Linked DNA regions of Homo sapiens: all the other regions are linked to region 1. Evidence: fine-mapped QTL for protein levels in blood plasma. A gene starts in region 1. Each other region holds a variant in brackets. All regions are shown on one strand. Distances are from middle to middle.

Evidence for each region. PIP is the posterior inclusion probability: the model's chance that the variant is causal. Protein levels are from antibody-based Olink assays in UK Biobank. Linkage for the fine-mapping came from a reference panel and not from the study's own genotypes, which makes the PIPs less certain.
Region 2: its variant is fine-mapped to the plasma level of the SAA4 protein (UK Biobank, PIP above 0.99).
Region 3: its variant is fine-mapped to the plasma level of the SAA4 protein (UK Biobank, PIP above 0.99).

What each region holds. Positions count from the first base shown.
Region 1 is chr11:18,235,585-18,238,347 of GRCh38, forward strand. It overlaps SAA4 (serum amyloid A4, constitutive), which reads right to left and starts at 1,218. Exons shown (of 4, transcript NM_006512.4): 1 at 1,133-1,218; 2 at 252-346. The coding sequence starts at 342. SAA2-SAA4 (SAA2-SAA4 readthrough) reads right to left here. Exons shown (of 6, transcript NM_001199744.2): 4 at 252-346. It also overlaps a transcript of SAA2 not described here.
Region 2 is chr11:18,214,223-18,216,985 of GRCh38, forward strand. No RefSeq gene overlaps it. Among named protein-coding and RNA genes, the nearest start is that of SAA4, 21 kb to the right of the region's middle. The variant C/T (reference allele first, on the strand shown) is at 1,470.
Region 3 is chr11:18,221,235-18,223,997 of GRCh38, forward strand. No RefSeq gene overlaps it. Among named protein-coding and RNA genes, the nearest start is that of SAA4, 14 kb to the right of the region's middle. RefSeq lists an enhancer at 242-742. The variant C/A (reference allele first, on the strand shown) is at 1,141.

The DNA.
Region 1 (2,763 bases):
GAAGTTTTTATCCTTCTGCACTCTACACCAAGAGTACAGGCTGGGCCCAAAGCATCTTTAACCTCTCGTCTGGAAACCCCAAGGGAGGGTGATAAATCAGACCAGCCTAGAGGAAGAAACAGATACAGAAAACCACACTCCTGCTCTGACCTCTGTGTGGCTTCTCTAAGGAGCACTCACATCCAGTGAGTATGTGGCCCCTGCTCAGAATGAATCCTGGGTATGTGCCCTCCATCCTCCAGAGTTCTTACCTTGGAGAGCCTCCTTGAAAAACGAACGCCAGCTTTCACTGGTGACTCCCATGACCAAGGAGCAGAAAACAATGCCTGTGAAAAGCCTCATTGTGCTGAAGAGAAAGAAAGACAGGGGCAGAGGATCATAAAAAAAAACACAGATCTATGTTTTGAGGACTGAATTTCTTTCCTTTTTTTCTTTCTTTTTTTCCTTTTCTTTCTTTCTCCTTCCTTTCTTTCTTTCCTCCCTTTCTTTCTTTCTTTTTTTTTTCCTATTGCCCAGGCTAAAGTGCAATGATATGATTAAGGCTTACTGCAGCCTCGACCTTCTGGGCTCAAGTGATCCTCCCACCTCAGCCTCCTGAGTATTAAGGACTACAAACGTGCACCATCACACTCAGCTAATTTTTTTTTTTTTTTTTTTGGTAGAGACAAGGTCTTGGTATGTATGTTCGGCCCAGGCTAGTCTCGAACTCCTGGCCTCAAGCAATCTTCCTACCTCAACCTCCCAAAGGATTACAGGCATGAGCCACTGTGCCAGCCAAAGGACTGAATTTGAAAGACTAATTCCCCATTTCCATTTGTTTGTATGAGAATCATAACTGCATGAAAGATTGAAACGGGTTTTAAGAAGAAGCATAAACCCTTAATTCTCAGCCCAGATCTCTAGAAAGAATAAGAGGATTCCAACGTGTTATTTGGTCTGTGGTCAATTTGTCACCCAATACAGCAGACTAAAGTCAATCAAGAAGCATTTCCTGAGTTCCTACTCTCCTCAGCACTGACCCCGTAATGAGGTAGAAAACACAGTTTCTCTCCAATTGAAATTTGACAATTATGTGAGAAAAGGATCTCAAAAGAGTCAAATAAGAGAAATTACTCCTTGGAAGAAACCTCACCTGTGGACCTTTCTCCAGATGAAATTTCAGTAAAGGCAGAGCTGCTGGTATCTTCTGGCCGTGGAGCTATAGTTGGTACCTCTGCTGGCTTTGGCATTAATGGGAGAACGGTTTTAAATCCAACAACCTGCCTTGCCAAAGTCCTTTTTGCTCAATTCTTTGGGTATTTTAAAAATTAACATATTGGGTAATAGTGTTTCCTTATCTAGAAGTAGTTTTCCAAATTGGGTCATCAAGGTATTTATTTTCTGGCAGTTTTTCTTAATTGCCACTTTTCCCTCTTTTTAGTTTCCTGTATCACAGAAGAGTTGTATTTGCAAAATCCAGTGTGGGAAGACAGAGGTCTTTCTCCACTTTCTTCTCTTTGTGTCTTTCCATTCTTAACTGTTTAGTAGGAGGTCTTCCCAAAAAATTGCACATAGATATTATGCTGTAGGAAGTGATCAATATTATTAGCAAAAGAGATGTTTGCTTGTCTCTTGTGACTTCTCTCTAAAGAATGTAAGGACACAGAACAAGCAAGACTTGACTGTACCATTCATGGGATGAGGTAATGATTCTGGGAGAATACAAGGACAGGAATAACACCAGAAGATCAAGGGTGAAGGCCTTTGAGGCATAAAAACTCTTTTTTCATATAAATATGTATTATTCTGCACTTTCTTTTAAACTTACTATTTATTGGAAGTCTTTCCATGTCGGGCTTGTTGCTTTTTTTTTTTTTTTTTTTACAGCTACACAGTATTCCATTGCATGGATGGACCATAATTTATACAATATTAATGGCTGTTTTGACAGTTATTAACCTTTTGATATTACAAATAATGGTGCATTTATTAACCTTGTACATATGTCTCTTGCACATGTACAAATATATCTCTAGGATAAATTCCTACAGAAGAAACTCCATGGTGAAAAAGTATCAGATTTTATAAATTTTTTGTTTGTTTGTTTGAGACAGAGTCTCACTCTGTCCCCCAGGCTGGAGTGCAGTGGCATGATCTCAGCTCACTGCAACCTCCACCTCCGGGGTTCAAGAGATTCCCCTGCCTCGGCCTCTTGAGTAGCTGGGATTATAGGCACATGCCACCACATCAGGCTAATTTTTCTATTTTTAAGAGAGACGGGATTTCGCCATGTTGGCCAGGCTAGTCTCGACCCACTTACCTCAAATGATCTGCCCACCTCGGCTTCCCAAAGTGCTAGGATTACAGGCATGAGCCAACGTCCCTGGCCCTAGATTTTATAAATTTTTATATGTTGCAAATTGCCTTCCATGAGGGCTGTATCAATCTCTACTCCCACCAGAAATGAGTGAAAGAACTTGGTTCCACATTGTCTCTCACACAGTATACTCTCAAACTTTTTGGTCTTTGAAATTGTGAGTAAAATAAAACTCAAAGTAATTTTAATTTACATTTCTCTTATTATGATTTTGGTTTCACATCTTTCCACATGTTTAAGAGCTATTTCTATTTTCTAGGAATTGTGAATTCATACCTTCATATCAAAGTAGTCATTTTTTACTGGTTTATTGTGTTTTTATTTATCACATTAGAGAAACTTTTTATATACAGGGAAAATGAGTATGTTATCTAGGATATGAGTTACAAATATTTTTCCCAGCTTAT
Region 2 (2,763 bases), 21 kb before region 1:
TTAAAATATTTCTTTTATCATGTGCAAATGCATATCAAAGACTTGAACAGGCATTCTCTTGAAATTTGAGGATTTTTAGTTTTTAATGCTGTCTTTGTTTAATATTAAATACATGTTGCCTAGTGGCTCCCAAATTTTGTGGGAGTCTCTAAATGTTTCCTCTTAAAGGTTCATTATTAAAAGTGGTTAAGCACACACTGCTATTTTTGTTTGATAGTTTGAGTTTTATGACCATATGAGTTTAAATGAAATCTGTTAAATGTTCCAGAGTTAACACTTTTTTTGGATAATTTGGAATAAAGTTTGTTTTTCAAGTCAAAAAAAAAAGAAAGAAAGAAAACTCTGACTAATACAGACTGCAACTCTTAGGTGAGTCCTAGTGCTGAATCAGGCCCAGACACAGTGGACTGGGCAAGGACGGCACGTAGGGGCAGACAAATTACTGAGACACCAGCTGGGGTGCTAAGGGAGTGCTGGTATCACCCTCCCCTAAGCCCAGGCTGCACAGTTTGTGGTTCCAAAAGAGAATTCAGCCTTCCACTTAAGGAGATGAGAGGGAAGAGTGGGGAGAACTTTGTCTTCCATCTTGAATACCCACCCAGCCACAGAAAAATAGGGCACTAGTCAGAGTCACAAGGCCCTGGCTCCTGGATAACATTTCCAGATACACCCTGGCCTGAAGGGAACCCACAGCTTTGAAAAGAAAAACCCAGTCCTGGCGCCATGCATCACCCACTAACTGAAGAGCCCTTGGGCCCTGAATAACCAGCAGCAATACCCAGGTACTATATTGAGGGCCTTGAGTGAGCCTCAGGACTTGCTGCTTCAGGTGACACTCAGCACATTACCAGCAGTGGTGGCGATGGAGTGAAACTCCTTCTGCTTGAGAAAATCAGAGGAAAAAGTAAAGGAGGCTTCACCTTGCACTGGTGCACAGGTGCCACCAGCGCCACATGGGGTAGAGCACCAAGCAGGCTGTTGGGGTGCCCAATTCCAGGACGTGGCTCTTGGCATTTCTGGACCTGCCCTTGGACAGAGGAGACCCCACTGCTCTGAAGGGTGACTTTTAAGCCACACAACATTCACCACAAACTGACTAAAGAGCCCTTGGGCTTTAAGGGAACATTGGTATTAGTCTGGTGGTACTACCTGTAAGCCTGTGGTGGTAGTGGCCACGGGGTGAGGCTTCTTTGCCTTTAAAAAGGGGAGGGAAGAGTGGGAACAACTGCATCTTGTGGTTTGAGTGCCACCCTAGCTGTAGTACAATAGAAAACAGGTAAATTTCTAAGGTTTTGGACTCTAGTCCCTGAATCCTGGTTGGCACCTCTAGACCCACCTGGAACCTGAGGATACTCACCACCCTGAAGGGAAGGACACAGGCCTGACTGGCTTTGCCACCTGCTGATTGTAGAGCCCCAGGGCCTTGAGTGAACATAGGCAGTAGCCAGAGAGTGGTTATAGCAGACCTT[C/T]GGCAAGACCTTGTGCTGTGCTGGCTTCAGGTCTGACCCAGACCAGTCACAGTGGTTGTGGCCACAGGGGTGCTTGTGTCACTCCACCCCCAACTTTAGGTGGCTTAGAACAGGGAGACAGACTCAATTTGTTTGGGAGAAGTAAGAGAAGAGAACAAGAGTCTCTGCTTGGTAATCCAGAGAATTATCCTGAATATTGTCCAAAACCATCAAGGCAGTACCTCTACAAGTCTGCAAGAACCACAGCTTTACTGGTCTTGGGATGCCTGCTAAAACACATACAGTTTAGATCAAAATACTCAAATCTGTCCAGATATCTGGAAAGGCTTCCCAAGAAAGTTGAGTACAAAAAATCCCAGACAGAACACTACAATAAATACTTTAGCTCTTCAGTGCCCAGACACTGAAGAACATCTATTAGCATCAACACAATTTAGAAAAACATGACCTCATCAAATGAACTAAATAAGGCACCAGAGACCTATCCTGGATAAATAGAGATACGTGACTTTTCAGACAGAAAATTCAAAATAGCTGCATTAAGGAAACTCAAAGAAATTCAAAATAACACAGAGAATAAATTTATAATTCTATCAGATAAATTTAACAAAGATACTGAAATAATTAAAAAGAATTAAACAGAAATTCTGGAGCTGAAAAATGCAATTGGCATGCTGAAGAATGTATCAGAGTCTTTTAATAGCAGAACTGATGAAGCAGAAGAAAGAATTAGTGAGCTTGAAGACAGCTTATTTGAAAATACTCAACAGGCTGGGTGCAGGGGCTCATGCCTATAATCCCAGCATTTTGGGAGGCTGAGGTGGGTGGATTGGTTGAGGCCAGGAGTTTGAAACCAGTCTGGGCAATATGGCAAAACCCCATCTCTACTAAAAATACAAAAATTAGCTGGGTGTGGTGATGTGCACCTGTAGTTCCAGCTATTTGGAAGGCTGAGGCACAAGAATCACTAGAGCCCAGGAAGCAGAGGTTGCAGCAAGCCTGGGCAACAGAGTGATACTCTGTCTGAAAAAATAATAATAATAATAATCAAAAAAGCAAGAGAATAAGGAATAAAAACCAATGGAGCACACCTACAGGATCTAGAAAACAGTCTCAGAAAGGCAAATCCAAGAGTTATTGGCCTTAAAGAGGAGGTACAGAAAGAGATGGGGTAGAAAGTTTATTCAAAGGGATAATAACAGAGAACTTCCCAAACCTAGAGAAAAATATTAATATCCAAGTACTAGAAGGTTATAGAACACCAGGCAGAATTAACTCAAAGAACACTACCTCA
Region 3 (2,763 bases), 14 kb before region 1:
TCCCTGGCTTAAAGGTAGGGCTTCACCAGGGACCTGCGCCTTTCTGCCCAGGAGCCTGTCTGCCTCCTGCCACTGTTCATGGTGCCCAGGCTGTTTGTGCAGAGGGGCACCTGCAGGCCATCACTGAGCTGCCTTCAGCAGCCACCTTTGCCTCCCTCCTGTGCTCATCAATGCCCAAAGTCCAGAGGGGGCTGAGGCAGCAGGGGGCTGGCATGTCAGCACTGCCCCAAGTGTGTGCACTCCCAGCCGGGTGATGACAGTGCCCAGGCTTGACCTCAACTTTGCTCTGAGATCAGAGTGAACACCGGGAGTGGGGAGAGGCCAGGCAGCAGTGGTAGGCACTTCCGAGCCTGCAGGGATGGGGGCCAAGAGTGCAGGCCCAGGTCCGCAGCCATGTCTTGGGCAGCTGCAGCCACACCTGGGAGAGTGGGGCTCCTGCCTGCTCCCAGCCCTCAAGAGCACAGGGGAGGACAGGGATTCCCAGGTCCACAGCCACAGCTTGGGCAGGTGCAGCCACACCCAGGAGGGCAAGGCTCCTGTCTGCTCCTGGCTCTCTCTGGCTCTGCAGAGCCCACAGCCCAGTTGCGCCTTCCTTGCTGCTGACAGCATCTTGGCAGTGCCCACACCAGGCAGGCCACCATTGCCATCACCGTGTATATCAACAGAGTGATATTGTTAGTCCATATGTCTTTCTTTTACTTCCAAGTGTCACACTGCTCTCCAGGATGATAACCCATCTACATGCTCTAGCAGTACAGGAGGATTTCTATAGCTCTACATCCTTGCCAAAACTTGGCACAATCCAACATCATTTTTTTCTAGTCTAGTAGATTCCATCAAAATAATGATTTTGTTTCAAAGGTATAGATTAAAGTCTAAACATTAAATAAGATATTATAGGGTTTCACAGGACATAGTAACAATCTCTGAGGTGTTTTTTGTTGTTGTTGTTGTTGTTGCTGCTGTTGTTTTACAAAATTCCTGTTAGGAATAACTTTTGTGTCCAGGCGCGGTGGCTCACACCTGTAATCCCAGCAATTTGGGAGGCTGAGGCAGGTGGATCGCTTGAGCTCAGGAGTTTGAGACCAGCCTGGGCAACATGGCAAAACCCATCTCTACCAAAAATACAAAAAAAAAAAA[C/A]AAAAAACTAGCTGGGCATGGTGGCACATGCCTGTGGTCCCAGCTACTCAAAAGGCTGAGGTGGGAAGATTGCTTGAGCCCGGGAGGTGGAGGTTGCAGGCATACCACTGCACTCCAGCCTGGGTGACAGATTGAGACCTCCATCTCAAAAAAAAAGAAAGAACTTTTGTAAGTACAGCTTTTATTATCCTAACTGCTGATCTAGCAGCTACAGGAGAAAATGGAACATTTTCTCTTCCTTATCTTGAAGAAACTTCTTTCACCAGAAATTAGTAGGGCCTCTAGTTCTCAAGGTCAACTGCCTAAATTCCATTGGTTAATCCTGATGGATAAGCAGGCCTGAGAAGAAACGAATCACACTGGGGAAAAAGGTCAGAGTAAGGATTATTGGAATATGGAGCATATTTCATTGCAATCTTTATTAATTTGTATGCATTATGTGTACCTATGTGTTTGCATATGTATTGCTGTGTGGTGTGTGTATGTGTGTGTGGTGTGGGGGGGGTGTGCGTCTTGTGTGTGGAGAGTGTGTGTGTGTGGTATATGTGGTGTATGTGTGTGGTGTGTATATGTGTGGTGTGTGTGTGGTGTGTGTGTGTGAGGGGGTGTTGGGGGTGTGTGGTGTGTGTATGTGCTGTGTGTATGGAGTATATGGGGTGTGTGGGGGGTGTGTGTGTGTGAGTGGTGTATGTGTGTGGTATGTGTGTGTGGTCTGTGTATGTGTGTGTGTGGTGTGTGTGTCTGTGTGGTGTATGTATGTGGTGTGTGTGTGGTGTATTTGTGTATTGTGTGTGTGTGTTGTATATGTGTTGTGTTTGTGTACAGAATTGGCTTCAGCAACCAACCACTTCCTCATTCTCATCGCACCCTCTAGTCCATAGAAGGAGAGAGAAAGAGAGAGAGAAAGAAAAAGAGAGAGGGTTATAAACTCTAAACTATATTATAAATAAAATATTTGTTATTTGTCCTTGTCTGAACACTGGAATCCCAATCAGGACAGGAACAGTGTAGTTGGGTTTTTCACTATGGATATTCAGTACCTGCGAAGGTGCCCGTGACATAGGTCGGTTGAACGAGTCTTAGCTGAGTGGACATGTTCACTGATGGAAACTTGAAAAATACAAAATAAGTATAAGGATAAAAATAAAAAGCAATACTAATTTCATCAGCCAAGGCTGGGGGAGGGGTAAGGAGAACCACTGTAGAATCTTCATACTTGGTCTCTAATCTATTTTCTAAGTGTTTATAGATATATGAATACATAAACACCAAGTGATACAATATCTACCATTTTATAGTCCACGTTTTCATTTGGCAATTTAACATAAGCATGTTTTCATGTCATGCCCTTAGCTACCACAGAGTCAATGACAAAGCTGAAATTCAAATCTGGTCTGATAGGATTAAGTGTTGGGATTATTAACCAAATGCTATATAGCTGCAACCTAAACTTGGCAGCAGTATAGCATATATACAAATACATGTACAACATAATGTAATTCAATTACATCAACTAGCTTGATAATAACTCTTCCAGTGAAACATCAGCTGCATGAGAGCACTAGTCTTCTCTGCCTTATTCCCTACTGTATTCCCAGGGTCTAGAAGAGTTCCTGCCAATAC